2 separate regions of the Homo sapiens genome follow, and region 2 is linked to region 1. The links come from fine-mapping of genetic effects on gene expression. A gene starts in region 1. The other region holds a variant in brackets. All regions are shown on one strand. Distances are from middle to middle.

Region 1 (15,954 bases):
TCCTGCTTGGTCCTGAGCACTCCTGGACAGGAAATGGTCCTTTCCCTCATGTCAACAGGGTAAATAACCACTTCCTCATGAGGCAAGAGTACAGGCCCGCTTGTGCCTTCCCATGGTACTCAGCGCGGAACACCGAAGCATGTGTCATGCCTGCCTCATGCTACATATCTTGCTATCTGACCCACAACCTGCTCCAGGGCTTTTGCCTGGAATGGAAACTCAGCAGGTCATCAGCCCTGATACTTCCTACACCCCTGTCAGTCAGCTGCCTCCTCTTCTCTGTGACATTGTCATCGATTGGTGTTCTAAGCAAGGATAAAGGGAAGGGAGTGACCAAACCCTTCTTTCCTGGGGTTAAAGTAGGTGGGGAGGGGCTGAGACCCAAGTGAAAAGCCCAGGACTGGATCTACTCCTTCAGGCAAAGCTCGATCCAAGGGCTCTCTCTGCTCCCTTTTGCCTGCACTTCCTCTGGAAGGAGACTGTACTGTGGCCTCTGGGCTCCACTCCCAGGGTGACCTGGGGGCAGTTCATCAACCAACTCCTGCCTCCGTGTTCTCATTTGTAGAATGAGGATAATAAAAGTTCCTCACCTGACAGGGCTTGGGGGATCTCCTTAGCCAGATCCTAAAAACAGCCATAGCCACACCAATGTCGGCAGACAGGCAGAAACAGGAAGACAGGCAGCTTTGCCAATTGTAGATAAAACAACGGTGTTCTCTATATAAAGTGCTTTGAATAGTGTGACACAAGGGCGTGTATTATGGAGCCTGAAGGTTATACAAGTTGACACAAAGTTAGGTACAAAAGTTAATATTCTTTGTAAATGATAAAAAGAAATCAGGCAAAAATTAAAATTTTAAAAGGTTGATAAATTCCAAAATATTACAAAATTTAAAAAAATACATTGATATGGGCTCAGCACAGTGGCTCACAAATGTAATCCCAACAATTTGGGAGGCTGAGGCGGGTGGATCACTTGAGACCAGGAGTTCTTGACCAGCCTTGCCAACATGGTGAAACACCATCTCTACTAAAAATACAAAAATTAGTCAGGCATGGTGGTGCGCACCTGTAATACTAGCTACTGGGGAGGCTGAGACATGAGAATTGCTCGAACCGAGGAGGTGGAAGTTGCAGTGAGCTGAGACCATGCCATTGCACTCCAGCCTGGACCACAGAGCAAGACTCCATATCAAAAACAAAAAACAAACAAAAAAAACACACCATGATATTTGTGTGAATCAACTGCCAGACACACCTCCATGCTTTTCCCTCCACTGCTTGCCTGAATACACCTTGATTGCCTTTTTGTTCAACACCCATTTTGTGAGTTGTTGTTTTTTTTCATTTCTTCTTTGCTGTATAACAATACCAGTTTTGTAATATCACTTTCTTTGGTGCAAATAGGTAGCAATCTTTCCTCCAGTCTGGTTGATTGGAATTTTTAGAAAATTATTGATAGTTAATAGTAGTTCATTATTGATTGTTTCTTTCAGCTTCATAATTCTTTACTGGTAATGTTACATAAAACTTCAGGATCATTACAAATTTAGGAAAACCTCTGCTTTACTTACTATGGCTATGTAACAAATCACCCAAAATGTAATGGCATAACACAGCAACCACTCTATTAGGCTCACAGATATTTTGTGTGTCAGAAATTCAGAAAGGGCCCTGGCTAGGGATGACCCAACCACTGGGGCTAAAATTATTGGAAGGCTCATTCGTCCGTGGGTCTGGAGCCTGGGCTGGGCCAGTTGGAGATTAGGACTGCTGACTCCAGCACCCACTGGTGGCCTGTCCTTATGGCTGGGCTTCCCCACAGTATGGCCGCCTCAGGGGAGTTGGGTGTTTCGCCTGGCGGCTCAGGGCTCTAAGGGGGAGTGTTCTAGCCATTAAAAAAGAGAGCTGCATCACCTTATGATCTAACCTTGGGAGTCAAGCAGTCATTTTTCTCACATCCTGTAAGTTACCAATCACAAGCCCATCAGATTTAAGAGAAGGGGAGTTGGCCTCTATTTTTTGATGGGGAGTGGCAAGGTGCTGGAAGAGCATGGACAGGAGATATCGGTGCAACCATTATTGGAAAACAGAATCTGCCGCAGCCTCCATCAAGCTTCTTTGGTGTATAAGCTGTTGTAGGTGTTGTGCTAGCTGCTGTAGCACAGGAATCACGATACATATTCTATTAATATTTCTTAAAATTACCCTCAAATAAAGGAAAACATGCAATCAAGACATGATGGGAAACACCCTTTTCAGGAGAGAACTTCTGTTTTGATCAGGTGTCAAGGAAAACCAAGTCTTCCACTTACAATGTTGTGTGTTGGATTAGAGGAATTTTTCAGATTGGTTTCTGGCTCTGGATATTTCAGATCTCATTTCTCTTCCTCTATCCAATTCTTCTGGCACCAAAGGACACACCCACATCACAGTGAACTTCACTATATGTGAAGCTGACTGTACATGAAGCTGACTTCACTATATGTGAAGCTGACTGCAAACCCCATAAATACATCTCACTAAACTGAAATAAAATATATCTCTAACTCAACCTCTCCTTAACCAGATCCTAAAAATATCTATAGCCACACCAATGCTAACAGAGGGGTAGGAATGGGAAGACAGCAGTCTTTACCAATTGTGGATAAAATCGTTTACTACTGTGAATTTTACTAAAATATATGATCACACGAACCTACTGCTAGGGCTCCCCTGGAGCCTTGGAAGGATGTGTGTGTGCAAGGAGAAGACTCAGCTTAAGTATCATTAGCTGCACAATAAACCCGCCTCTGCCTGGCACATAGGAAGTATTAGTTATATAGGTGTTTATTATTACTGGCTCCATTTTCCTGACAAATTTTCCTCTCATGGTGGCAAGATGGATACATTTAGCAGCCCCAGCTTCATATGCTCCCAAGTTCTGCCCAGCAGGAAAGACAAAGTGTCTTTCTTAGAACTTCATGCACCAGCATTTATTGTGATTGCACCAGCCAGAGTCCTGAGTCCAATGAACCAAATGCCTTGGTTAGAAAGCTTCCAGGAACTGACTGGCCAGCTTTGGACCACATGCTGTGTTCTTGCAGCTGGAGGTGGAGTCAACAGCACCCAAACCAAGGGGGAAGAGAGTCGGGGAGGGCTGGTTTCCAGAGAAAATCTGGGGAAATTAAAGGAGCCTTGAGTGCCAAATGAAAAAATAGATGTTCATTTTCTGTGAGTATAGAGTAAACGTTGAGAAGAGACAGTGGTGGCAAGGATGCCCAGCAAGGGAGAGGGATGAGAGAGTGGAAAACATGGCGCCCAAGACTTCCTCCAGCATGGCTGCTTAGGTCAGGTCTGCTCTGATGGGCTCTCTAGGCATGGCCCTCCTTTAAGGACCCTCCACCCGTGGCCTGGGTGAGCAGCATGTGGCCTCAGCCCAGCCCCGCTGTGCCTGCCAGCCCTGTTCCAGGCTGACTGCCTCCAGGTCACCTCTACCTGTCTTCTGTCTTCTTGTCCTGACCTTTGTCTTGGTCTGATCCCTATTCCCAGCTGCCTATTCATAGCCCTTGGAGGGTTGGAGTGGGGAGATCTTTAGGACCTCAGTCCGAGGCCAGCCACTGTGCTTCCCTGCTCCGTGTCCTTCCCCCTTCCCACCTTGGGTCTCCACCATGTGTCAAAACCCTAGGTCTTGGCACATAATTCATGGAAACTGTGATGGGAGCATCCTAAATATTTCCTCTCGTCCATGCAGAACCCTGCGGCTCTCTTCAAGTGGGGGGTATCCACGTGTGACCCATCGAGCAATGGTTTTCCATCTTTTTCAAACTCTTTTTGAGAATCTGATTAAAGCTATAGACCTGAGCTCTCTGGTAAGGTAGGCTCTAGCCACATGCAACTGCTGGACTCTGGAAATGCGGCTGGGCTGAACTAAGATGTGCTGCAAGCATAAAACACACAGTGGATTTTGAAGTCTTAGTATGAAAAAAAGTAAAATATCTCCTTAATAATTTTATATGTTGATTACATGTTGAATTGACAATACCTTAGATTATTGGGCTAAATATATATTAATTTCACCTGTATCATTTTACCTCTTTTTTTGTGGCCACTAGAAAGTTTAATACAACATCTGCAGAGCTCCCAGAACATTCCTACTGGACAGTGCTGTTCTAGACCCCTTCTCTAGAAACATTCACACATGCATACATAGTCACATACTGGACTGTGCTGTTCTAGACCCCTTCTCTGGAAACATTCACACATGCATACATAGTCACCTACTGGACTGTGCTGTTCTAGACCCCTTCTCTGGAAACATTCACACATGCATACATAGTCACATAATTTTGTATACAATTTCAGGGACGGTTAAAAGTATCCTAATTCCCATCCATGGACCCTAGACCCAAATTAAGAATCTCTGAATTAGGAATTTCGTAGTTTTCACCAGGCCCAGCATCTACCACACCATCATTGCACAGGTGGGGAAACTGAGCACCACGTCCTCCTCCAGGCACAGCCAGCTGTCTTCTGGGGGTGAGGGGGTGTCTGGCCCTCCCGTACTGGAGTGGGGCGCTGGGGCTGGGGTCACCTCAAGGAACGTGTTGCTGCGGCTCTGCCTCCCTAGGTTCCCCCAGCGGATCCCGGCGGGCGTATGGGGATGACAGGGGCAGGGAGGTTAATCAGGACTCCTAAGGTCCCAGGATTCCTCTGGAACGGGCCTAAACAATGGAGGCCACCAAGGACCAGGGAAGTTCTGGTGGGTGGGCTTCAGGACAGACAGTACAATCCCAGCCTTTCCAGTCACCAGCTGGGTGATTCTGTATTGCTTTGTCTGTGACCCACTTGAAATGACTTGTTCTTTGTAGTTTTCTACATATTACATTTACTTCTTTCCCCCCCACCCCTTTTTTTAAAGAGACAGTGTATCACTCTGTCACCCAGGCTGAAGTGCAAAGGTGCAATTATAGCTCACTGCAGCCTTGAACTCCTGGGCTCAAACAATTCTCCCACCTCAGCCTCCTGAGTAGCTGGGACCATAGACACGTGCCACCATGCCCCATTAATTTAGAAAATTTTTTTGGTAGAGATGGGGTCTCAACATGTTGCCCAGGCTGGTCTCCATTTCCTGGCCTCAAGCAACTCTCCCTCCTTGACCTCCCAAAGTGCCAGGATTACAGGCGTTAGCTGCCATGCTCAACCACTACATTCATTTTTTTATTAAATTTTATATCATGCAAATGACAGATATTTCCACCCAAATAATGTTTACTTGTTCATAGACCATTAGATTCCTGTTTTGGCCAACTCTGAAATAATACATTTTAGATCCACTTGTAGTATTTTAAGATTAACTCAGTTTCATTTGCTTTGAAAAACAACATCATCGCTGTTCAACTGTTTACAGAATTGATGGTAAAATGACTGAATTCATGTCATTTTAGGAGAGCGTTCAGTGCTAATGTGTACACTGAATGCTTTAAGCGGTGAGGTGGCTTCACAAAGTTTACTTCTACAATTTTCATAACCTAAGAATCTCCTGATTGGTCTCTTTTACTTTTATTACAAAGTCTAATTGAAATCCCCTAAATTCTTAGGGCCCGCCGCATGGAGGTGAGGGGCTTGTGGTGGGGAATGTCCAGACCCCTGTGCTGCTCCCTGGAGCTTGCTCAGGTCAGGTGAGGAGGATACACTAGCCCGGGCCTGTCACCACGACTGCTCTTGTTTTCATCCCCTGAACTCCCTGCTGCACAGAGCTGCCCAGGAGGGCTGGCTCCTTGCCTAGTCTCAGGTGCTCAGCCCTCCTCCTCTAGAGGCTGGCCCTGGCTCCAGTGGAGCTGGGGGTTTCCTCAGCTCTACCCCCACCCCATCCTCTGCCCTCAGCCTCAGGGGAACCAGCTTCCTGCCACCACTCCTGGGACTCGTCTGCCTCCCCCTGGCTGCATCTTCTGTCCTGAAACTCCAGGTCTGGAAGAGGTGCTCCGCCTGCAGGTCCTGGAGCCCTGCCAGAGGTTTCTGGAGATGCTGGTTGACCCAGCCTCTTGGGGAAGAGGGGCAGGTGCAGGGCTGAAGGAGCGACCTGGGGGTGGAGCCCCAACCTGTTTATAGGATCGTGGCTCATTGAAGGCTGGCAGATTCATGCTGGTCCTATCCCACTGGGACCGTCGCTGCCACTCAGCCAGAGAGCCAGCATCTTGGCAAGGGCTGGGCCTGGAGTGAAGCTGGAAGGGCTAGCATGGAGAGCCTGTCACCTGGGGGACCACCTGGCCACCCTTACCAGGTAACAGTGTCTGCAGAGCATGTGGGCACCAGTCAGGGCAGGCCTGGAGCCAGGGTGCATTCTGGGAAGTGTGATAGCTGGAATCAGGGTGATTTCAGACTGGGCCAGAGGGCGAGGGAGTCTGAGATTTGGGATGCAGAGTGGGTGGGGTGGGTGAGCAGCATCCGTAGATGCGGGGGCTGGGAAACGTGAGTCTGGTCAGCAGAGCTTCCTCTCCCCACCACCAGCGACCACAGCAGTGTCCTTAGGGACCTCTCCCCCACCATCATCGGAGAACATAGTGGCTGGGTGTGTCACAAAAGGAGACCCACCAGGCCCACAGCCCCACCACCACAGGCCGGCAGACTTCCCAGAACTGGCTGGAGCCCTGGGATCACCCTGTGTGTCTCCAGAGCTCTGGGGGCCCAAATCCCCATCCACTGCCAAGTATTTAGTAGGCCCAAGAGCTGTGGGGCTGCATCCAGGCCAAGGAGGCCTGCAAACTTCTCGCCACCCCCCCACCCTCTGTCATGTGTTTCTCCAAAGCCCAGAGTTTTCATCCTCTGCCAGGGACCAAGGCCAGCAGAGCTGGCTCCTGAGGTCTCCCCCCGGTGCCCCAGGTGGTGGCCAGGAATGAGGCTAAGTGTGTCAAGGTCACTGTCCTGAGGTCCTTTGCCTCATATGCAGACCTCGCTGGGCTTCTAGAGCTGTGGCCCTGAGACCCAGGCCCAAGCTGGATCCAGACAAGCAGCTCCAGACTGGTGCTCCTGGAAGAGGCTCAGCCTGGGGCAGGGCAGACACTAAGGAGCCCTGGGGGAAGATGAGAGGGACCCCTCAGTGAAGGACCACACTGTTGCCCCAGCCTGAGGTCAGGTGGATCCACCCACGAGTCAGACATCAGCGGACATTTGGATGCGGGGGAGTCCACGGATGCAGGCCAGTGGAGGGGCTGGCGGCCCTGGCTCCACCACCCGTCCCATCAGGAGCCCTGAGCCCAGAACGGCCCATTGTGGAGGCTTCTGGAATATTTCCCCCTTTAAACTCATCTCCCTGGCGAAGGCTGTGCCCCTTTCCCCTTTTCCCTCAGCCTGCTCTAGGTCTAGCTCCTGGGTAAAACAAAAGCCTAAGTGTCAGCAATTTGGGAGCCTCAGTCGGCCCCACACCTGGAAAGCACCTCGCCTCCAGCTGGCATTCACAGGACTGAGTCCCCAGGACCAGGTCCTCAAGCTCCAGCCTTCAAGTCGGTTCCTGTGGTTGGCAAGCTTCAGCAGCGGTTTAGCCTAGCCTCATTTCTGCTGGAACAGGGGCCTGGAACCTGCCCCAGAGCGGGACCTGGGCCAGCAGGCTAGGCTGGCCATCCGGGACCTGTTCTGGAACGTGCCTGCCGTGTGGTCCAGGAGACTCAGCCCAGCCTGAGGGAGGTGCAGGGCCTGGGGCTGTGCCCAGGGGTTCCACTCCTCTTCTCTCTGACCTCCTGCATTGCCCCACCACAGGGCGCCAGTGCCAGCAGACGACAGGGTGGGTCTGCTCATTTCTCTCTTCCTGCCGAACACCCAGGATCACGGGCAAGGATACTCTGGACCCCAGCTGGGGAGACCCAACCCCCTTAAGCTCTCTTGGGCCACATCTCCCAAGATGGGCACGGGGCAGCACAGAGCCTCTCACAAAACTTCCTGGCAAACGTGTGCCCTGGGCCTCTCCACCGGAAGAAGGATGGCCCAGAGCCTCTGGGGTCCCTGCGCAAGGTTCAGAGTGGCTGAGACCCTCAGCAGGGAGGCATTCGGGGGATCCTACAGGTGACTGGGCTGACGAATTTCCTCCAGAAGCCTCCGGGTTAGTCATCAATTAAGGAGGTATTTCAGATGGGAGGAGCTTTCAGAAGGGAATGTGACGCCCCTATGCCCTCAGGGGAAAAGATTCATATCAGTTAAAGTGTCGGTTATCTCAGTAATCATATTAGTCAAATCTGTGACAAATCTATGAATATCTGTTAGTCAAATTAGACAAATCTATGAAAATCTAGTGTCTAGATATCCTAGATATCCGTGGGGCAATGAGGGAAGAGTTGCATGCTTTTCCAAAGAAGCAAAAGTCCTGGGAAGGTAGAATAGACGGGGGTTGTGAGCTCTGGCCTGGAAGTTTGAATTCTAACTCTGTCCCTGCTAACTCTGTGACCTTGGGCAAGTTAGCCTCTCTGAGCCTCAATTCCCTCATGTAGAAAATGGGAGGAAATGGGAGTACTGTCTTTTGAAGCTGTGGGAGGATAAATAAAGTTACAGTAGTGTAGGGACCAGCCCCACAGGGTCGGTGGGTCTCTCCCCGTGTGCGGTGACGAGAGAGTTTAGAAATAAAGACACAAGACAAAGAGATAAAAGAAAAGGCAGCTGGGCCCGGGGGACCACTGCCACCAATGCGCGGAGACCGGTAGTGGCCCTGAATGTCTGGCTGTGCTGTTGTTTATTGGATACAAAGCAAAAGGGGCAGGGTAGAGAGTGTGAGTCATCTTCAATGATAGGTAAGGTCACGTGGGTCACGTGTCCACTGGACAGGGGGCCCTTCCCTGCCTGGTAGCCGAGGCAGAGAGAGAGAGGAGACAAAGAGAAAGACAGCTTACGCCATTATTTCTGCATATCAGAGACTATTAGTACTTTCACTAATTGACTACTGCTATCTAGAAGGCAGAGCCAGGTGTACAGGATGGAACATGAAGGCAGACTAGGAGCGTGACTACTGAAGCACAGCATCACAGGGAGATGGTTAGGCCTCCAGGTAACTGCGGGCGAGCCTAACGTCAGGCCCTCCACGAGAGGTGGAGGAGTAGAGTCTTCTCTAACTCCCCCGGGGAAAGGGAGACTCCCTTTCCCGGTCTGCTAAGTAGCAGATGTTTTTCCTTGACACTTTTCGCTACCGCTAGACCATGGTCCGCCTGGCAACAGGCATCTTCCCAGACGCTGGCGTCACCGCTAGACCAAGGAGCCCTTCTGGTGGCCCTGTCTGGGCATAACAGAAGGCTCGCACTCTTGTCTTCTGGTCACTTCTCACTGTGTCCCCTCAGCTCCTATCTCTGTATGGCCTGGTTTTTCCTAGGTTATGATTATAGAGCGAGGATTATTATAATATTGGACTGAAGAGTAATTGCTACAAACTAATGATTAATGATATTCATATATAATCGTATCTAAGATCTATATCTGGTATAACTATTCTTGTTTTATATTTTATTATACTGGAACAGCTTGTATCCTCGGTCTCTTGCCTCGGCGCCTGGGTGGCTTGCCACCCACACGGTAGGTAATATGGTTAGTACAGTATTGTCACCCTACAGAAAGACACGAGAGAAAATGATCTCTATGTTGTGTTTACTCTGGAATGAGAAATGACTGTGGCTCGGAATGTGTCGAATGACAGGCCGCCAGGGCAATTGTGAGGGAAGGGGAAAGGGAAGCTTTTACTGGAAAAAAGGGGGAGGCTCACAGAAACTGCTTGGAAACAGAGTTCATTGGTTCCAGAGCTCAAAGCCAGAGTTGTCAGTTCATTGGTGGAGATGCTGTTACTGGGCACGTGTTTTCTGAGAGCATCTTATCTGAATTATTGCAGTCCTAATGGATGTCTAGTGATGAACCTTGTCAACTCATCTCCCTGGCGAAGGCTGTACCCCTTCCCCCTTTTCCCTCAGCCTCCTCTAGGTCTAGCTCCCAGGTAAAACAAAAGCCTAAGTGTCAGCGATTTGGGAGCCTGAGTCTGCCCCACAACTGGAAACTGCCTCACCTCCAGCCGGCATTCACAGGACTGAGTCCCCAGGACCAGGGGCTGTGCCCAGGTGTTCCACTCCTCTTCTCTCTGACCTCCTGCATTACCCCACCACAGGGCACCGGTGCTAGCAGGGAACAGGGCGGGTCTGCTCATTTCCCTCTTCCTGTCAAAGAGGGACTTTGGCATGAAGGATGTGAAGCTGTTTTCTGTGGGGTTTGTAGGAAGTCCTTGGAAACAACTCTCATCTCAGACATGTAAATACGAGCTCTGCTCTTTCATGCGTTCCCAGCCCTAATTTGTCGGGGTCTGACAAAAGTGATTTCATCCTGGTATCTGCAACATTCACAGTGCCTGAAAACATGGCAAATACTTAATAAACAGTAGTAGCAATAGCAGTTACCTAAAAACTGCTTACTTTATTCCTAAGCAGTCTGCAGGCATTAACATTTTAAGCCTCAGAATACTATGTGAGGTCAAAACTATTATTTCCACTACACATGAGGAAACAGAGGCACAGAGAAGTTTAGTGACTTGTCCAAGGTCACACAGCAAGTAAGTGGCAGGGCCAGGGTTTAAATCCAGACAACCTGGCTCCAGAGTCTGCCTTTAAGCCCCCGTAAAGACCAGTCATTGTAATCACTGTCCCAATAATACCATGTTCTGGGCACTCCATGTTAGCGATGATCTTAGAGGTGAAGAGAATCGGGATTTTTCTCTAGGGAAAATAACCTGCCGGGGAATGGTGGGCTTTCTGAGGTTGAGAAGCTCTCAGTGATGGGAGGGAGAAATGAACCACAGTGCTTAAACCCGGGATGGTGACTGGCTAGACAGTGAGTAACTGGGGCCACTTCTCAGTAGCCCAAGTGACTTTAGAGCAGCCCACAAGCTGTGGACCTGTGGAGTATCAGCCTGGCCGGGGGAGCAGGGGAGCGAGGCTGGGCTGCCTCTGCCCTTCACCTGTCTTGTCTTGGAGCGGGACATTCAAACTCAATACCCTGCAGGGCCCCAGCATCCCAGCCATCACCTCCCTGTGGCCGGCAGTGGTGGAATCTGAGTGAGGGGAGGAAATGGAGCTAGATGTCCCAAAGTTCATGAAATCTCTGCTGCTGACAACCTCTATAAGGCTTAAGGTTTATAGAGTTGACATGTTGCTGGTGCCACTGGAGTTAATCCCCAAGAAGAGAGAAACAAATCTACCTTGCTCGGGGAGGTCACATGTGCTCTGCTGGGAAGCTGCCTGGAATGATAGGACGTTGGCATGGAACCACAGAGAGGAAAGATGCAGGGGCAGGGCCACCAGGCATATGGCTTTGCTGTGGCCCATGGTCCTTTACAGTTTTTGGTGGGGAGTGGAGATTCAGGTCCCCGTGGGTGCTGAGCCAGCCCCTAGCAAGCAGCATCTGTGCAGAGCGGGTACGAGTCCTTGTGGGCACCGAGAACTTCCAACCACATGCATGGAAGTGGGTCTGGTCACGGGAGAGCGCAAAGCAGGAAACACCTCTGGTTTTATCACAACAGTCTCCCAGCTATGCGATATCAAATGTTCACTGTGCAAACACTGCACTGGCTTTTGGCTCCCTCAGGGTCGGGGAGGAGCGGGTGAAGGGACATAGGGTCTGAGAAGATCGTACTTACTTAATGGGGAGTCTAACCTGGTGGCAGAGCCGCTGAATGGCAGAAGCCCCAGCACGGGTTTTTTTCTGGAATGAAGGTGGTCTCTGGGTTGTTCAGCAGGGCCGCCACACTGCATGGCTCCTGGGGTTAGCATTTCATAGGCCTTCATGTGCTTGGTGCCTCCTGGGGGTCCTGCCATGCTGTGGCCCTGCAGGATCCCCTCCTGGCTGGGGCTCCCACTGCCCCACTCCCCGGCACAGGCAGTGTTCCTTCCTGACAGCCCCTGTTCTAACAGACCCTCTGGACATGGGCTCTTTCTGCTGGGGCCACGTGCCTCATAGGTGGTCCTCCTGGGAAGGCTCCCTTCCAAGAGGATGCAAGGCCAACAGCCTTCCTTGGGGTCAGCCCACAGGAAAAAATGCCATTTGCCCTGCCAAACCGATTTGAGTAACCTCACATCAAAGGGGCTTATAAGAAACCTGTGCCAGATGCCCAGAAAAAGCCGTGCTGCAGGGCTCAGGAAGAACAGAAACTCCAGGGCCCTCCTGATCGTGGCAGTGCCGGGGACCTCAGCAGTAGGGTGTGGGGACACCCCCAGTGCTCTGACCCCAGCAGGCCTCAGCCACGCCCCTCTGGCCATCTGCTTTCCCTCCTGCCACCTACTCTCGGCTCATCTTCTCCTCCAGCTTCTGCCCACTCAGCTGCTTCTCCCTCACACCTGGGCTGTCTGTGGCTGATGTGGCCTCATCAGCATCTTAATACACAGTGGCCTTTCACCCACAGCACCCACTGCTCCCTGTGATGGCTGGATGCTCTTGGAGTTTCCTCATTCATACCCCTTACAGTGCAGATAGCTGAGATCCAGGGTAGCGCCTGTGGACTGGGCTGCTGAGGCTCACCCTCCCTTAAGTCATATGCCTGCTTCCCGTCCGGAAGGGCTGAGGGGTGGGCAGTGCTGGCAGCAGGGTCACCAAAGGTAACCCTTGTTTTGCCAAAGGGCTGCCCTCCCTGGGAGCTCTGGGAATGGCTGACATCTAACTGACCTCTGTGGTTGCCACTCCTTGGCCCTCACTTCCTTGCTCTGTCCACTACCCATGTTGCTCTGTTCCCGAAGGGGAAGGGGTTCCACAAATTCCACATCTGGGTGTGCTGCTATTCCCTGACTGCTGCAGCCCAGAACCATGACCCCCAAAACAGAAGTGGACAAAGGCTCTTTGGTCCCCAGAGGGTGTCCCCGGAACGCCTGGCAGGGGTGTCAGCACCACCAAGTACCAGGAGAGTGGTGAGGGGTGTCGGCAGCCCGGGCTGCAGCTCCAGGCATAAGGGAGGGAATGCAGGAAGGACTCTGGAGTTTGATTTTCTCTTCAGGGGGAGGCCTCTACCTGCTGGCAGCTCACAGTGAGGGTCCTGGAGGCGCGGAACCTGCGCTGGGCTGACCTGTGTGAGTAACCGCCCTGTGCGCTCTGTCGGGAGCAGGGAGGACCAGATCCCATAGGAAGGGCCAAGACGAGTGCCCTGGGGCTGGGCTGGGTCACCTGCGGTGACCGCCAGGGTCTTGGTAGGAAACTGGCATGGCTCATGGAGAGGGGTGTGGGGAGTACTCCCTCACGAAGACTTCCTTAACCTTGGCAGTGAGTGAGGCCGACCCTTACGTGATCCTACAGCTGTCGACCGCACCTGGAATGAAGTTTAAGACCAAGACGCTCACCGACACCAGTCATCCTGTGTGGAATGAGGCCTTCCGTTTCCTTATCCAAAGTCAGGTCAAGGTGAAGGCCCGGGACTCCTGGCCACTCCCTTGTGAACGGGCTGGACCCCCATGCAAGGGTTCCTGGGGTAGAGCATGCTTCCTCTGGGGCTGTCAGAGAAACTCTCAGCAGTAGGGGGTCTCTGTGCCCTGGCCTGTCTGTGCTGTGTGCAAGGGAATGTATGAAAGAATGAACATGGTCCTTTCACCAACTGGCTGTGGGACTGACTCCCACAAGCTGGGTTCCTCTCGAAGCCCAGCTATGAAACAGAGACAGTAAGAGCCCCCTCCTGATCAGGTCACTGTGGGGTGAGATGAGATAATGCGTGGAAGACCGTGAAAGATCACCAGCACATACCTTAGGGTGCACCTCAGGGAGCCAGAAAAGCCAGGGAGAGAGAGACACACAGACAGGGAGAGAGGAAGAGGGAATTATTTGACAGACTTTTATGTGTTTTGTTTTGTTTTTGAGACAGAGTCTTGCTCTTATTGCCCAGGTTGGAGTTGAATGGCGCGAACTGGGCTCACTGCAACCTCCGCCTCCCAGGTTCAAGCGATTCGCCTGCCTCAGCCTCCCGAGTAGCTGGGATTACAGGCACCCACCACCATGTCCAGATAATTTGTTGTATTTTTAGTAGAGATGGGGTTTCACCATGTTGGCCAGGCTGGTCTCGAACTCTCGACATCAGGTGACCCACCCACCTCAGCCTCCCAAAGTGCTGGATAACAGGCATGAGCCACCATGCCCAGCTCAGAATTTTATGTTTGATAAAAACAAAAATTAGAAGGAGGAAATTTGAAATTTAATAAGATTTCCTTATATTTAAGTTTTACAGTTTTTTTTTTTATTTTGAAGCGCAGACGTGTGGTGGCATAATGATCTTCTCTGACTCTAGACATCAAGTAAGGGCTCAACAGAGGTGAGCTACTCTCACTATGAGCAGGTAAAATGCTAAGTCGCTGTTCCTGGTTCCTAGAATGTTCTGGAGCTTAGCATCTATGATGAGGACTCAGTCACGGAGGATGACATCTGCTTCAAGGTTCTCTATGACATCTCAGAAGTCCTCCCTGGCAAGCTGCTCCGGAAAACCTTCTCCCAGAGTCCCCAGGTGGGTGGGTGGGTGGGGAAGTCCCCGTGGGCCCCACTTCTTCCAACTCCAAGCTGAGGAAGTAGCTATTTCTCCCACCTGTTGGGAGGCTGCTGGGGTGAACTCATTCACAGAAAAATCTAAACCCCTTTTTAGATTTGCATTTTAATAAGCAAGGAAAAGGCTTCACTTTACAGTTACAGGCTGAATCACCCAGTGGAGGAATTTTAGCCACCTGTGGCAGGAAGGCCACCCCTCAAAACACAGCTCAGCATCCATCACTCCTGCTGGTGGTGCCAAGGCCTGCTTTGTGAAGGCCTCACGTCCCTTCCTGCTGCAGCCTGGGGGTGGGGACGGCAGAGTTCGGGGGTCTGGGCCCTCCTCAAGAAAAAGATATGGGTCCTGCACATCATGCCTCCTTTGGCTGTGCTCCTTGTCTTCCCCTTCAGTCTTGCCCAGAGTTGTGGGACCTCCAAGGGAGGGAGACCTGTTCTCTGCAGACTTACTAGCTGTGGGCAATGTGGGCAGGTAGCCCATCTGGCCCCATACCTCAGTTTCCTCATCCATAAATTGGAAATAATTGTACTAACGTGCCTCCCTTGGAGACCGCTTGAGAGGATGAGATGACACCTGTAAAAGAACTGTGTCAACTCTGAAGACACAGGTATGTGCTGATGACTTGCTCATGCTCTCTGATTTCAGGGAGAGGAGGAGCTGGATGTGGAGTTCCTGATGGAAGAAACGTGAGTAATGTCACACAGCCCAGGGAGTGTCTCAGGACTCAGGCTCTGAGGAAATGGCCCTGACCCAGATCTCCCTGTGGTCAGTCCAGCCTGACTGTCCCTCATCTCCTACCCCTGCCAGAGAGGTCGGGAGTGGGGCGGGGCTTCTCTTAGGGAAACACAGAGAGGAAGGCCGATGTTTTCTCTCTCTGCTCTCTCCCCTCCCCTCTCCTCCTGCAAAGCATCTCCCCTTGTCCCTGAACCGAATCCAGGACTTACAGAGCCCTCAGCATCACCCAGGGAGACCCCACATGGGCGGGAGCGGGAGGTCAATGCAGGAAGCGTTTGCCTTTGCATGGTTTGATTTTTCCAGGTCAGATCGCCCAGAAAACCTCATCACCAACAAAGTCATTGTGGTAAGCACCTTCCCCAGGCTTAGGGGAGGGGCCCCAGAGCAGACGCTTGGGGAGGGAGGGCAGCTGCCTGGGGTGTGGACCAGCAGGGACAAGGAAGGGGCAGGGCTTCGTGGTAAAACCACCCCTAGCCTTCCAGCCAGGTGGTCACCTGTGGCTGTGGGTCTTGGAGGGGCCTGGAGCTAAGGGGCGCATAGAGAGAGGGGAGGCAGGGCTCTGCTGAGAGGAGGTTCTGGCCCACGGCTGTTCGGGGTGCTTCCGGAAGGTGTTTAGTCACCTGCGGTGAACTCATAGTTCTAGGGATTGACTGAGTGCTTCCCTGGGAAGCGGTGAAGAAATCAGGTAGGCCAGGCCCACCTTCCGGTTGTTCACGTTG
Region 2 (15,954 bases), 27 kb before region 1:
CCATTATCCTTAGCAAATTAACACAAACGGAAAGCCAAACACTGCATGTTCTTACTCATAAGTGGGAGCTAAACATTAGATATGCATGAACACAAAGACAGGAACAATAAACACTAGGAATTCCAAAAGCAGGGAGAAAGGAAGGGGGCAAGGGTTGAACAACTACCTATTCAATACTTGTGAAATGGGAAAAGTTCCCTTATCCCCCTGCAGGGCGTGCGATGGGGGTGTGGCTCGCTGCTCAAATCTCTAGGGGAGCATACAGACAGGTTGTGGGGTTCCGACCACATGGCAGTGTCTAGGGGGTGAATGTTTACAGCTGAAGCCCCAGTGGGCGTGTGTTATGGTGTGCTCTTTCAGTTTTGCCATCTTTAGGTGGCTTGTGTCTTCTTCCATGGCTGAGTTCCTCTCAACATCCAGCTGCTTGGCCCGCTAGTGTCTCAGGGTATTTATAGGCACAGGATGGGAGTGTGGCAGGCCAGGGTGGTCTTGGGAAACACAACATTTGAGCACAAAATGGGGATGGAGCCCTCGCCAGGGACCCCGCCCTTCTCTAACCAGAACTTCCCTGTCCCATCCCATATCATTTGGGCGAAGTACTTGGGTTAGAAGCCCAAACCTCAGCATCATGCAATATACCCATGTAACAAACCTATACGTATACCTCCTGAATCTAAAATAAATAAATGGGCTGGATGCAGTGGTTCATGCCTGTAATCCCAGCACTTAGGGAGGCTGACACACAAGAATTGCTTGAACCCGGGAGGCGCAGGTTAGGAGTTCAAGACCAGCCTGGCCAACATGGTGAAACCCGGTCTTACTAAAAATACAAAAAATTAGCTGGGCATGGTGGCACGTGCTTGTAATCCCAGTTACTCAGGAGGCTGAGGCAGGAGAATAACTTGAACCCAGGAGGCAGAAGTTGCAGTGAGTCAAGATTGCACCACTGCACTCCAGCCTGGGTGACAGAGCGAGACTCCATCTCAAAATAAATAAATAAATAAATATAATAAAATAAGTAAGTAGAGGCCGGGTGTGGTGGCTCGTGCCTGTAATCCCAGAACTTTGGGAGGCTGAGCTGGGCTGATGGCCTGAGCTTAGGAGTTCAAGACCAGGCTGGCCACCATGGCGAAACCCCGTCTCTACTAAAATACAAAAAATCAGCTGGGTGTGGTCGCAGGTGCCTGATGGCCAGCTACTCAGGAGGCTGAGGCACAAGAATTGCTTGAACCTGGGGAGGCAGAGGTTTCAGTGAGCCGAGATTGTGCCACTGCACTCTAGCCTGGGTGACAAAGCAAAACTCTGTCTCAAAAAATAATAATAATAAAAATAAGTATATATTTATTACATTGGGGGAAATTGATGTCATAAAGTCATCAATTTCCCCCAATGTAATTCAATTAAAAATAACTATTTTTTTAAGCTAGGGAAGTTAATTGTAAAGTTTATATGAACAGATAAACTTGCAGGAGCCAGGCACGGTGGCTCACACCTATAATCCTAGTACTTTGGGAGGCTGGGGCAGGAGGATCGCTTGAGGCCAGGAGTTTGAGATCAGCCTGGGCAATATAGTGAGACCCCATCTCTTGAAAAAGCAATAATTATGGTGTGAATGGGGGGCAGGGGATGAGCCTTATCAAACATTAAAACATGATAAAGGCCTTATAATTAAAATTATATGCTGCTGACACATAACCAACAGAACAGAATACACAGTATAAAAATAGATGGCAATACATATGAACATTTAGTGTAAACTATACATGATAAGTCACTGAAGAAGAAAATGACTTTTAAATAAGGACATTGTGATAACCAGATAGTTATTTGTAAAATAAAATAAAATTGGATTCACATGCTCCATACCATGTACTAGAAAAACTCCAAGTGAACAAGCAATTATGGCAAGGTTGCAGGACACAAGTTTAATATCTAAAAGTCTATCACTTTCCTATATACCAGCAATGAATGAGTGGAATTTGAAATTAAAAAACACAATACTATTTAGCATCCCCACAAATGAATACTTAGGTATAAAGCTAAAAAATATGCACAACATCTATATGAGGAAAACTATAAAACCACAATGAAAGAAATTTAAAGAACTAAGTAAATGGAGAGATATTCCATATTCATAGTTAGGAAGATGCAATATTGTCAAGATGTCAGTTCTCCACAACTTGATCTATAGTTTTAATGCACTTCCAATCAAAATCCCAGCAAGCTATTTTGTGGATACTGACAAACTGATTCGAAAGTTTGTATGGGGAGGCAAGAAACCCCGAGTAGCCAAAACTACATTAAAGAAGAACAAAGTTGGTAGACTGACACTATCTAACTTAAAGACTAACTATAAAGCTATGATAATCAAGACAATGTGATATTGGTGACAGAAGTTAAGGGGGAGGAAGGGATGAAGACACAGCACAGAGACAAATAGATCAATGGAACAGAATGACAGCCCAGAAATAGACTTACATAAATATACGATCTTTGACAATGGAGCAAAGGCAATACAATAAAGCCGAGTCTTTTCAACAAATGATGCTGGGGCAGCTGGACATCCACATGCAAAAAAAAAAAAAAAATAATGGCTAGACACAGACCTTATACTCTTCACAAAAATTATCTCAAAATGGATAAGAGACTTAAATGTAAAATGTAAAACTATAGAACTCTTAGAAGATAACGGGAGAAAATCTAGATGACTTAGGGTTTTGCAATGACTTTTTGGATACAATACCAAAGGCAACATCCATGAAAGAAATAATTGATAAGCTGGATTTTATTAAAATAAAACATTTCTTGGCCAGGCGTGGTGGTGCACACCTGTAATTCTAGCACTTTGGGAGGCTGAGGCGGGTGGATCACCTGAGGTCAGGAGTTTGAGACCAGCCTGGCCAACATGGTGAAACCGCATCTCTACTAAAAATACAAAATTAGCTGGGCATGGTGGCGCATGCCTCTGATCCCAGCTACTTGGGAGGCTGAGGCAGGAGAATTGCTTGAACCCGGGAGGCAGAGGTTGCAGTGGGCCGAGATTGTGCCACTGCACTCCAGCCTGGGCAATAGAGTGAGACTTTGTCTCAAAAAACAAAAAACAAAAAAAACATTTCTGCTCCTCAAATGACACTGCCAAGAGAATGAGAAGAGAAGCCACAGACTGGAAGAAAATATTTGCAAAAGACATATCTAATAAAGGACTGTTATCCAAAATACAAAGTACTCTTAACACTTGATAAAAAGAAAACAACCCTATTAAAAAATGGGCCAAAGACCTTAACAGACACCTCACCAAAGAAGAAATACAGATGACAGGTACGCATATGAAAAGATGCTCCGTATCATACATCATCAGGGAAATGCAAATTAAAGGAACAATGAAATAGTACTACACATCTATGAGAATGACTAGATCCAGAACACTAACGACACCAAATGCTGGCGAAGACATGGAGCAACAGGAACTTCCACTCATTAATGGTGGGAATGCAAAATGATTCAGTCACTTTGGATACAAATCTGAAGGTTTCTTAAAAAACGAAACATATTCTCCATTTCATTTTGGAATATTTACCCAAAAGAGTTGAAAACTTATCTCTTTACAAAGACTGCACATGAATGTCTATAGCAGCTTTAGCTATAATTGCTAAACCTTAGAAGACACCAAGCTGTCCTTCAGTGAGTGAATTGATGAGCAAGCTGGGGTACATCCAGACAATGGAATATGATTCAGCACTAAAAAGAAATAAGCATTCAAGCCTTGAAAAGACATGGAGGAAACTTAATGTGTATTACTACGTGAAAGAAGCCAGTCTGAAAAGAGTACAGAGTATGATTTCAATTGTATGACATTCTGAAAAAGGAAAAACTAAACGACAGTAAAAAAAAAAATCAGTGATTGCCAAGCGTTAGGTGGGAGGGAGGGATGAAGAGGCAGAGCACAGAAGCTTTTGAGGGTAGTGAATCTACTCTATATGACACTGTAGTGCTGGTTACATGTGGTTACATGTGTCTGAATCCAGAAAATGCAACATTTCTATGTTTCCAAGCATGAAGCCTGGCTTGTTCCCAACCTTGAGACCTCAGCTTACTAGATGGGTGGAAGCCTTCTGTGACCTGCTCTTAATCTCCTCTCTCCTTGGAGGCAGGGAAGCCAATTACACCTTTGTGACTTTTCCTCACCCTATTCTCTGTACTACATGATGTTCAAGGTGAAAGACTTTTACGACCACTTGTTGCACCTGTGCGGCCACAGCGCCATGCTGCAGACCTTGAGGACTTCCCTGATGCACTGGGTCCTGGGATGAGGGGTGGAGGGAAGTCTCCAGAGACCCTTATCTGACCCAGAACCCCCAGGACCCTGAGGGCTACACTCTGTCCCTGCAAAGGCTGGGGATTTAACCCAACCTGCAAGTGGGCATAGCCACAGCCCTCCCTGGGCTGGAGTTTCCCAGCTCTCCTAGGCTTGGGCCACGTCTGCAGCTTGTCTCCCTGCCCAGGGAGCCACATCCCACCTAAAGCTCTCCTTTACATTTATGGCTTCAGAGAAGCCAACAATAAACTCCTCCCCAGACCTATATAGAATACTGGTTCAACCAAACAAAGCATTCACACTAATTATGTTTATGCACAAGCAGGATGAATTTGAAGTGCAGGCCAGAGGAGCCAGCCTAGGGAGTGGGGGCAGGAAGAGGCAGGGATTGCTTAATCTGAGGGGCGACTTCAGGTACAGAGAGGAACATGAACCATCAGGCATCATAGCATGTCCCAAGGACACTCACTTCCTGTTTCCCATTCAAGCTCCATGATCTAAGAATTTCATGTCAACCTGGAACTGCGGCTGCCCTCACCCAGGTGGTGCACAACACAGATTTGGGACAGATCCTCTCAGGACCCTCCCTCTAAGAAAGCCCAGCATTAGGGAAGGGGCCTGTGTTAGTTCAGGTGCTCTAAAGTGGCCAAGATGGGATTATTTGTGCCAGAGACTTGTTAAAGTAAACACCTGTGAATGAGGAAGGAAAGGGGCAGGAGAGCCTTCAGATTGTAATACCATTTGGACACCTATGAAAGGAGACAGGGAAGGAAGGGGCGATGGAAGGAAGGGCCTCAGACTCAGTTCTAAGAAAATTCCAGCCCGGCTGATGGGAGTCCTGGAGCCATAGTTGCCCATTAGAGGGGTCCCATATCCCACAGGAATGGGCAGACACTAGTGCCCCACCACGTTCTGTCTTTGGCTAGGAGTAACTCAAGAAAGCGTGGCCTTGGTGTGAACGCAGTGATAGCTCCAGAGGGTGGCCAGGGACTGGTGGTCACTATAAGCCTGCAGCAGGTTCTTTTGAAGGAGGTCTGATTTTCATGCTTGCCACAGGGTCTTCGGTGTTTCCCATTTCTTTCTGTCTTCTGCATTTATTTTGGGTTTTCTCTCTGTGTTCCCTATTTTATCACAAACTCTTGTTTTTAATAATATTGTTATATAGCCTCTGTTGAATACTTGTTTTGTGTCAAACATTTTACATATGTGTTTTCCTTTATCCTCACAATTCTGTGAGGGAGGTAATATTATTCATGTTTTATAGATGTAGAGACTGAGGCTCAGAGAATTGTTATTTATCCAAGAACATTAAAGTCAAAAGTGACAAAGCCATACCTTGAACTCAAACTCAGGGCTTTTTTTTTTTTTTTAATTCCAACACCCAAAGAATTAGCCACCATACTACCGTATGCCTTTGAGCACTTGGCTTTTTTTTTTCGCATCTTGTGTTTTAGGCATGAATGTGGAGAAAGTAAGGGGCCTGAGTTCAACAACAACAACAAAAAGTCTTTGCATTTGGGAAACTTCCAATGAAGCCAGATACAGGGCTGACAGGAGTGCCTTCAGCCTCCAGAGTGAGCTGGGCTGAGCCCCAGGGATAATATGTGTGTGTGTGTGTGTGTGTGTGTGTGTGTATCTGTGTGTATCTACCCTGATCTGACTGGCTGCTGTTACACCCAGGCCCTGAAACCCTGAGGGCCCCCTCAGCTCCACCCTGATCTGGGTGAGGACAGGCTTCCAGTGTGGATTGCACAAGGTACTTCTTGCAACCTGTGGACCCCTCCAGGGCCAGGCCCAGAGCCAGCCGGCAGAGCTCAAGCTCAGGACTAGGGCAGGGAGGTCCAGCAGGCTGTTAGTCACCAGTACCAGGGCTGGCCTGTCACTTGGCCTATTCTGCCCAGTCTGCAGTGCAGCTGAGCCCTTTCGGGAGTAGGCACAAAGGGTGAGCAT[C/G]TTTATGCTAATGACAGTGCTGACCACTCGCAGAAGGACTGAACAACCAGATGAGTGGGATGGATCGTCCAGTGGTTGTCAATCAGCCCTGTCCTCAGCCATCTTAATGTTTGTGCTCCCAAATGGAGCAGAGATGGAGGCAGTACAGGGGTCCAATAGCATAGGATCCCCATTCCAAGACTGACCTAGCTACTGACACTGCTGATTGTCGAACCTGCCAGCTGCAAAGACTGACACCGAGTCTGCAATAAGGCACCCAGGAGCTCAACTGACCGCTGATGGCAAGCTGATTATACAGGACCCCTTCTGTCCTGAAAAGGACAATTCATACTTACTGAAATGGACACACATTCTGTATGTGGATTACCTTTCCGGCTTCCTGCACCTCAGCAAGCACGACAATCCAACGACTTACACAATGTCTAATCTACATATGACTGTGCATAACAGCAACTTAGAGTAAGGGAGGCAGTGTGGTGCATATCACATCAACCACCAACTATTGCCCAATAGAGTGGCGAGATGGCCTCCTGAAGATGCATGGAGGAGCTAGTTTGGGGATAGTGTGCTATCTTCAGGATGCAATACACATCTGAAGCCAATGGCCATTGCATGTGCATTTGTCCCCACTAGGTAGAATGGATGGTCCAGGGTCCAAGCGGTAGAAGTAGGAGTGGCTCTGCTCATCACTATTCTAAGTGACCCACCTGGGGAATTTATGCTTCTCTTCACAGAAACTTTAGACTCTGTGGGTCTAGAGCTCCTGGTTCCTGGGGGCAGGAGCGGGAAATGCTTCTATTGGAGGACGCCATAGGAGTCCCAATAATCTTACAGCTATGGCTGCAGCCTGGCCACTTTGGCCTCCTCATGCTGGTAGATCAGCAGGCAAAGGAAGGGGTTACAGCTCCAGCAGGGGTAATTGATCTGATCATCAGGAAGACACAGAGCTGCTGCTATACAGTGGGATGATGGGGGCAGGGAGGAATATGTTTGGCACTCAGGTGATCCTGGGTTTGCTTTTTTCTATGTGAAATTTTGCATGTAAAAATGGGTAAATATAGCAACCATGGTCTGAGTAAAGCATAACTTGAGCTTCAGACTCCTCTGAGATAAAGGTCTGGAACACCCCTCCTGAGAGCCACAGAGAGCAGCAGGAGTGCTCGCTGAGAGGCAAGAGAACCTAGAGTGGGTGGTGGAGGAGGAAGATGATGAGTATCAGTGACAGATTGAGACAAACTGTGGTGGTGTGGGCTGTAGTTCATTCCACTAACTCTTCTCCTGTAAATGTTCCCACAAATTGTGACCAGCCAGAATCCTGGAAAAGCTGTGCCTAGATTGAATGAAGTTAATATGGGAAGCAATTGGATCTCAGTGGTTTGGGAGGTGGACTGTAGTATATGCTGTTGGTGGCCTGCACAGCTTCCTTTGACCAGCCTGGCTGCTGAGAGGGTTGGTTGCTAATGGCCCTCAGCTAACCCCTTCTCCAAAGATCTGTGCTTGGCTGAATGAGAGTCCCACACCTGCTTTATCACTCAGGGTTCTTCAGAGAGACAATATCAATGAGAGAGGGAGAGAATTGGCTCATGCAACTGTGGGCTCTGACAAGTCTGCAATTTGTAGGGCAGGCTGGCAGGCTGGAAACCCAGGCAAGAGTTGCAGTCTTTAAGGCAGAATTCCTCCTTTTCTGAGAAACCTCAGTTTTTGCTCCTAATGCTTTTCAACTGATTAAACGAGGCCGACCCACATTACTGAGGGTAATGCCCTTTACTTAAAGTCAACTTATTGTAAATTAGTCACATCTACAAAATACCTTCATAGCAATATCTATGCTAGTGTTTGACTGAACTGCTGGGCATCATAGCCTAGCCAAGGAAGCACATGCAATGAACCATCGCACCTGAGAGGTTAAGTTCTCACTCATACCCGTAACCCTGAGGCCGTCAGCAGTCAATCCCCGACAGACAGAGGGGCTCAGAAGGCCAGGCCCCTTGCTCCAAAGTGGGACCACCTCTTGCAATTTGTGCTGCAGAGGTCCCCGTGGGACCAGACTGAAGCGAGGCTGCAGCTGAGACCACGTGTTTGTTTAGCTATTTTTCCTCCCTGCTTCCCTCTCTCCCTGTCTCCTGGGAGTATTCTCCCTGTACAACAAGTGTCCCCAGTCCCTGCCTCAGGCTCTGCTTCTAAGGAACCAGACCTAAGACACTGTAATGGGTAATGTTATGTGTCAATTTGGAGGGTGTTTTGGGATGAGATTAACATTTAAATTGGTGAACTCTGAGTAAAGCAGACTGCTCTGCCTAATGTAGGTGCGCCTCATCCAATCAGTTAAAGGCCTGAACTGAGCAAAAAGACTGACCTCCCCGAGCAAGAGCCCGTTCTGCAGCAGACTCTGCCTTTAGACCTCACCTGCACCATTAGCTCTCCTGCGTCTTCAGCCTGCTGGCCCACGCTGCAGATTCTGGATTTGCCAGCCTCCATAATTGTGAGCTGCTTCCTTATGATAAATCTCTTTCTCTCTATGTACACATCCTATTTGTTTCTGTGAAGAACCCTGCTACAGACACCAGCTATTTCAGAATAAGAGTCTCAGGGAGGGGCATAGGCTGCTTGTGCTGCGGCAGGAACTGTCCTTTCAGGGTGCATGAGTTCCTTTAGCTTTATCGTTGCTCAGCCGAATGAGATAGGCAGCTGTTGGAATACACAGCTTCTCCTTAAAGAGTCTTGCTTCTGGGATTTGTCAGTCAGCCCCGCCCCCAATATTTTCCATAACTAAATCCATTCCAGAGAAGTTCCTGCCACAAGTCCATGCACCCCATCCATTATTTTGGCTTTGCAGTTTAAGGTGTGTTCCTCCCCTTGGCATGGGCACCCTGTAGGTGTCTGTGAGCTCAGAAGTTGTAGGCATTCTTGATCCCTTTCCCTCCACACCCCTGTTTGATCTTCATTGCTTTTAGTAGTCCACATATATTTGTGGATTGGGATTCAAATGTTTTTTTAAATTTCATCAAACGTAGAGTTTGTGTTTCTGTTGTTATTTTCTCCTGTTGCCTTTGAATGACTTAAGAGAAGGGAAAATGCTGAGTTCAGGGAGCTTGTAAGGCTTTTGAGTTTTTGCAAATCTGATGTGTTCGAGATAGTATCCCACTGTGGATTTAATTTGCATTTCCTCATATATTAGTGAGGTGCAGCATATTTTTGGTGTGTTTTTGTCTGTGCTGGTTTGCTCATCTGTGATATGCTGGTTTGTATATTCTGCCCATTTTTCTATTCAGTTCTTTGTCTTTTTCTGATTTGTAAACATATAAATATGTTTTTTTATTCTAATACATTTTTGGTTAAATATATTGCAAATATCTTCCCTCAGTCTGTGAATTATTTTTTCCACACTGGAAGGTGTCTTTTATTTTAAAGTTTTATATTTTAATATAATTGAATAAACAATAGTTATCCTTTGTGATTTATGGGTTTTGTTTCTTTTTTAAAAAATCCTTCCTTATCTTGATGTTCTAAATATCATATATTTTATTCTAAGAGTTTTAATCTTTACTTTTTAAATATAGGGCCTGGCCGGGCACGGTGGCTCACGCCTGCAATCCCAGCACTTTGGGAGACTGAGGCGGGAGGATTGCTTGAGCTCAGGAGTTCAAGCCTAGCCTGGGAAATGTGGCAAAACTTCGTATCTACAAAACATATAAAAATTAGCCAGGTGTGGTGGCTTGCACCTGTAGTCCCAGCTACTCAGGAGGCTGAAGTGGAAGGATCACTTGAGCCTGGGAGGTGGAGGTTGCAGTGAGCTAAGATTGCACCACTGTACTCCAGCCTTATGACAGAGCCAGACCCAGTCTCAAAAAATAAAATATAGGGCCTGAATTGATTTTATGTTTTCCCTAGCACCATTCAATAGCTAGTATGTTTTCTGCCCTGATCGACACTGCCACTTTTATCATATAACAAGTTTCCAGCTGTGTGTAGGTATTGTTTCTGGGCTCTATATTCTGTTATATTTGTGTGTCTGTTCTTGCTCCAAGACTCAGCTGCTGTAATTAATTTACAGTAAGGCAAGCCTCCTTCCTGTTCTTTTAGTATTGTCTTGGCTATTACTATTTTTTTGATCTTCCATATAAATTTTTGATTCAGCTCATCAAGTTTCATGAAAAACCCTTTTGGGATTCTATTTAAAGTTGCATTAAATATAGAGATTGTTTTTGGAGAGAATTGATATCTTTAGATAAAGATTCTATCTAAGGAACATGGCATATTTTTTCCATTTGTTGAGGTCTTGATGTTTTTCAAATGCACATTTAAAATGGTGTCTAGTCTTTACCTGGTAACACTTGCCTATAAAGTAATCTGGGTCTTGAGTTTATTTTTTATTGTTGTTAGATTTTGAATTACTAATTCAGTTTTTCTTTTTTTCTTTTTCTTTTTTTTTTTTTTTGAGATGGAGTCTTGCTCTATCACCCAGGCTGGAGTGCAGTGGCACAATCTCAGCTCACTGCAACCTCCACCTCCTGGGTTCAAGCAATTCTCCTGTCTCAGCCTCCTATGTAGATGGGACTACAAGCGTGTGCCACCATGCGTGGCTGTTTTTTTTGTGTGTGTATTTTTAGTAGATACAGGGTTTCACGATGTTAGTCAGGCTGGTCTCGAACTCCTGACCTCAGGCAATCCACCCACCTCGGCCTCCCAAAGTGCTGGGATTACAGGCATGAGCCATCACACCCAGCCAGTAATTCAGTTTTTCAAAAGGCTTTTGGATTACTAGAATGAACAATGTGGTGCTAGATTAGAGTCAGAGATACCATGTTTAGTTTAGATATTGATGGATAGATATAAAAATAATTATATATATGTGTGTATACACAGATCAGTATATGTCATATACATACATATATATAAACATATATAATATATTAAATATGTGTTACACACACACACACACAATAGCCTAGCTCTGTTTGCTGAGAGAACCTAGAAGTAATGACACCCCAGTAGCAATGAGCACACACAGTGCCCAGATCTTGGCTTCTAATAGCATTCTTCAACAAGAAAGAACCAGGGTTTCTTGGAGAAATGGTTCATTCTAGAGTGGAAACAGTCAGTATACAAGATGATCCTAAAGCATCTTGTAGTGCCAGAAAGTAAGGAAGTGATCAAAAAGCAAGGAGGTGCTCAAAAAGCAAAACAATACATACGTGTCAAAAGAGACACAGGAGGCAACAACAAATTCTCCCCAATGGCCAATGGTGGAACAATTTGAGCAACAAAAGAAAACAAAGTTGACTGGGCACTATGGCTCATGCCTGTAATCCCAGCACTTTGGGAGGTCGAGGCGGGTGGATCACTTGAGGTCAGGAGTTCAAGACCAGCCTGGCCAACATGGTAAAACCCCATCTCTACTAAAAATACAAAAAAAAAATTAGCTGGGTGTGGTGGCACCCACCTGTAATCCCAGCTATTTGGGAGGCTGAGGCGGGAGAATCACTTGAACCTGGGAGGCGGAGGTTGCAGTGAGCCGAGATCATGCCACTGCACTCCAGCCTGGGTGACAGAGCAAGACCCCTGTCTCAAAAAAAAAATTAATAATAGTTTAAAATTTTTTTTAATTAAATAATTAAATAAAATAAAAAATTTTTAAAAATTAAAAGAAATAAAGTAGCATTGGATTACAACCTAAAGCATAAAATATCCATGAGTCCATACTAATATAAATAAACTAATATAAATAAATACTAATAAAATAAATCAATGGGAAAGAAGAGACAAATCTTTCATGCAGAATAATTCCAAATAATTTATGTAGATACTCCTCAATAAAGGAGGTAGAATATGACTCCCCACCCCTTAAGTATGAGCTCCACTTAGTGACTTGCTTCCAAAGAGTACAGAATGGAAAGGAGGAAGTAACTTTACAGTAGAGAAAATTGGCAAATATTACCTCATCCAGATGATCAGGTCAACAGCAACATTGATAAGGCACATTGATAGCATGTACCCTTGATGTGATGTGAGGAAAATGGCCCTTTACCTCTGTGGTCTTCCTCCCTCAAAACCATGATTCTAGTCTAATAATGAGGAAAACATCAGACACATCTCAATCAAAGGACATTTTACAAAATACCTGACCAGTACTTCTCAAGACTGTCAAAGTCATCAAAAACAAGGGAAGTCTGAGAAACCATCACAGCCAAGAGGAGCCTAAGACGTGACTACTAAATGTCATATCCTAGATGGAATCTTGGAAAAGAAAAGGACATTAGGTAAAAACTAAGGAAATCTGAATAAGGGATGGATTTAGTTAATAATAACATATCAATATTGGTTAATTGTAGCAAATATACTCATGTTTGATGTTAATAATAGGAAAACTGGCCACAGGGTCTGTGGGAACACTGTACTATCTTCACAGTTTTTCTGTTCTGAAAAAAAAGGCTAATTTTTTTAAAAAAGTAAGTTTATTCTGTTTCCATTTGGTAATGTGTATCATAATTCTCAAATCATGGATTTTGTAAGGCATATTTTTGTGATTGATTTCTACCTTATTTGCACCTTGGTAAAAGAAATGTTATCTGTATGGTACCTTTTTCAGATTTTTGAGACTTATCATAAAACCCTGTTCATGACCAATGTTTGTAAAAAATGTTCCATTGTGTTTGAGAAGAAGGTGTATTCCCTAAATGTTGTGGCTGTATATGTCCTGTATATGTATTTGTAGGGGTCTGTATATGTCCTGTAGATTAAGCTTGTTCGCTGTGTTGTTCAAATCTTCTATATTCTCAATAATATTTTATATGTTTTATTTATCCATTGATGAGAGAGGTAGAATTGTAGATTTGTCAAGTTTTGCTTAGGACATTTTAATTTTGTCAAGTTTTAATTAGAGCATAGCATTTTAAGGCTATGTTATTTAGATACATGCAAGTAGATAACTGTTATATCTTCCTGGCGAATTATTCCATTGATCTTTACACAGCAATCCTCCTTATTCCTAATGATGTTTACATTAGAGTCTCTTTTATCTATATGTACACCAATTTTCTCATGATCAGTGTTTCCCTGGTGTATCTTTATCAGGCTCTTATTTTCAACTTTTTTGTGTGTTCTTATGTTTTCAGTGTGCTCTTACAAACAGCCACAGGTGGAGTTTAAAAAAAACACTAGATTGACAATCTCTCTTTAAAATTTTTTTTATTAGGAGAAATTCAAGCATACAGAAAATTAAATTTATAGTTTTTAATGGATTAGTTTAGTCCATTAGCATTTATTACGATTATTGATATATTTGGATTTATTACTGTTATCTTTTTTTTTTTTTTTGGAGATGGAGTCTCACTCTGTCACCCAGGCTGGAGTGCAGTGGTGCGATCTCAGCTCACAGCAGCCTCTGCCTCCTGAGTTCAAGCAATTTGCCTGCCTCAGCCTCCTGAATAGCTGGGATTACAGGTGCCTGCCACGATGGCTGGCTAATTTTTGTAGTTTCAGTATAGATGGGGTTTTACCACGTTGGCCAGGCTGGTCTTGAACTACCGACCTCAGGTGATCCGCCTGCCTTGGGCTCCCAAAGTGCTGGGATTACAGGTGTGAGCCACTGCGCCTGGCCTGCTATCTTATTTTGTGCTTTCTATTCACTCTTTTTTTCTGAGGTTTTCTTTTTTTTCCCCCTGAAAACTTTTGGATTCCTTTTCTTTTCCCTCCTTCTTTATTACCTTGGAATTTACATACTCTAATTTTATTCTTTTTGTAAGTACCTCTACATTTTAACCTGTTTATTATCTTGGAATTTACATGTTCTAATTTTATTCTTTTTGTAAGTATCTCTAAATTTTAACCTGTTTACTTGAATTAGCAAAGTTTAAAGTTAACCCACTTCTTTACCCTATTCCAGAACAAGGCCAGGTGCTTTAAAATCTTCGCTCTATCATATCTTCCCATTTCATTTGTCACTGTTTGGTGTTCTACTTCCCTCCTTCATTTTTTATTCCCCATATTAGTCATCATTATGATTATTATCTGTATAGTCAATATTTTGGTTTACCATATGTTTAATAACCTATTCTATTTCCTTCTTCCTGGAGTAAATCTATAGAAGAGCTTGGTGAGGTTTCTTAGTGGTAAACCTTCCATTTTTGTTGATCCAATAAATTATTCATGTAATGCTCATTCTTAAATAATAGCTTGGCTGAGTATAAAATTCTCAGTTGGCAGGTTCTTTTCTCCCAGCATTTTGAAGATATTTTACTTTCTTCTGGCTTTAGTTACTGCTGTTGAGAAGCCTGCTCCAGCCTGTCTATCCTTCATAGGGCAACTTATGTCTTTTTTTCTGAGGACTTTTAGTATTTTTTCTTTATCTTTGGTATTCTGCAGTTACATTACAATGTGTCCAGGATGAACTTTTTAATTTATTCTCCAGATTTGCTGTGATTCCTGAATAGTAGCTTATAATAATAATGTTCTTTTTTTGTTTTGTTTTTTTTGAGATGGAGTCTCGCTCTGACGCCCAGGCTGGAGTGCAGTGACATGATCTCTGCTCACTGCAAGCTCTGCTTCCCGGGTTCATGTCATTCTCCTGCCTCAGCCTCCCAAGTAGCTGGGACCACAGGCGCCTGCCACCACGCCCAGCTGATTTTTTTTGTATTTTTAGTAGAGATGGGGTTTCACCGCGTTAGCCAGGATGGTCTTGATCTCCTGACCTCATGATCCGCCCGCTTCGGCCTCCCAAAGTGCTGGGACTACAGGCATGAGCCACCGCGCCCGGCAATAATAATGTTATAATATGTGTTAAGTGTTAGCTCTGTGATATGGTCTAGATTTGTGTCCTCACTCAAACCTCATGTCCAGTTATAATCCCAGTGTTGGAAGAGGGGCCTTGTGAAAGTTGATTGGATCATGGGGGCAGATTTCCTCCTTGTTGTTCTCATGATAATAAGTGAGTTCTCAGGAGATCTGGCTATTTAAAAATGTGTAGCACGTCTCCCTTCTCTCTCTTCCTCCTGGTCTGGCCATGTGAAGGTGTGCCTGTTTCCTCTTTGCCTTCTGCCATTATTGTAAGTTTCCTGATGCCTTCCCAGCCATGCTTCTTGTACAGTCTGTGGAATCTTGAGCCAATTAAATTTCTTTTCTTTATAAATTACCCAGGCTCGGGTATTTCCTTATAGCAGTGGGAGAACTAATACACTATGCACCAGGCACTAAGTAAATGTTAACTCATTTCATATCCACAATGATACTATTATCGTATTCATTTTATAGGCAATTAAGTCACACAGTGGTAAATACTGAAGGTAGGATTTGAAGGTAGGATTTGAACCTAGGTTTTTCCCAGGGCTTCCCATGGGCTTTATGGGACTCTATGAATTGCTTTTCTGCTTAAGCCATTTCGAATTTGGTTTCTGGTACTTGCAACTGAAAAAATCCTGACTAGTCCATTGGCTAACTGGGTGGATATAGCTGGGAGGGAAAAGTTCTTCTTTTGAAAAAAGTAGATACAGCATGATCTTGTCTCATCTAGAAACCTGATGAATGTCAGGAAGTTTCACAAGCATCTCTTGAACTTGCCGTTGCTGTACTCCACGTGTTTCCTGCCCATATGGCTTCTCCTAGAATTGAGCATCTAAAGGGAATGAACTGCCTCTGAGCTGTGGTTTGCAGGCCCCAAACACTGGGGAGTGGCAACTAGTTGTGATACGTGT

Direction of the effects. Alleles are on the strand shown, and positions count from the first base shown. SD is a standard deviation of normalised expression in the study named.
As copies of G replace C in region 2, the expression in esophagus mucosa of the gene that starts at base 6,115 in region 1 goes up (moderate effect, 0.65 SD a copy in GTEx).

The links.
Region 2: its variant is fine-mapped to the expression of PLA2G4D in esophagus mucosa (GTEx, PIP above 0.99).

What each region holds. Positions count from the first base shown.
Region 1 is chr15:42,084,723-42,100,676 of GRCh38, reverse strand. PLA2G4D (phospholipase A2 group IVD) reads left to right here and starts at 6,115. Exons shown (of 20, transcript NM_178034.4): 1 at 6,115-6,262; 2 at 12,977-13,049; 3 at 13,241-13,377; 4 at 14,333-14,464; 5 at 15,146-15,186; 6 at 15,539-15,581. The coding sequence starts at 6,218. RefSeq lists enhancers at 3,417-3,917, 6,316-7,290, 8,265-9,239, 15,271-15,954 and a silencer at 15,952-15,954.
Region 2 is chr15:42,111,998-42,127,951 of GRCh38, reverse strand. No RefSeq gene overlaps it. Among named protein-coding and RNA genes, the nearest start is that of PLA2G4D, 25 kb to the right of the region's middle. The variant C/G (reference allele first, on the strand shown) is at 6,266.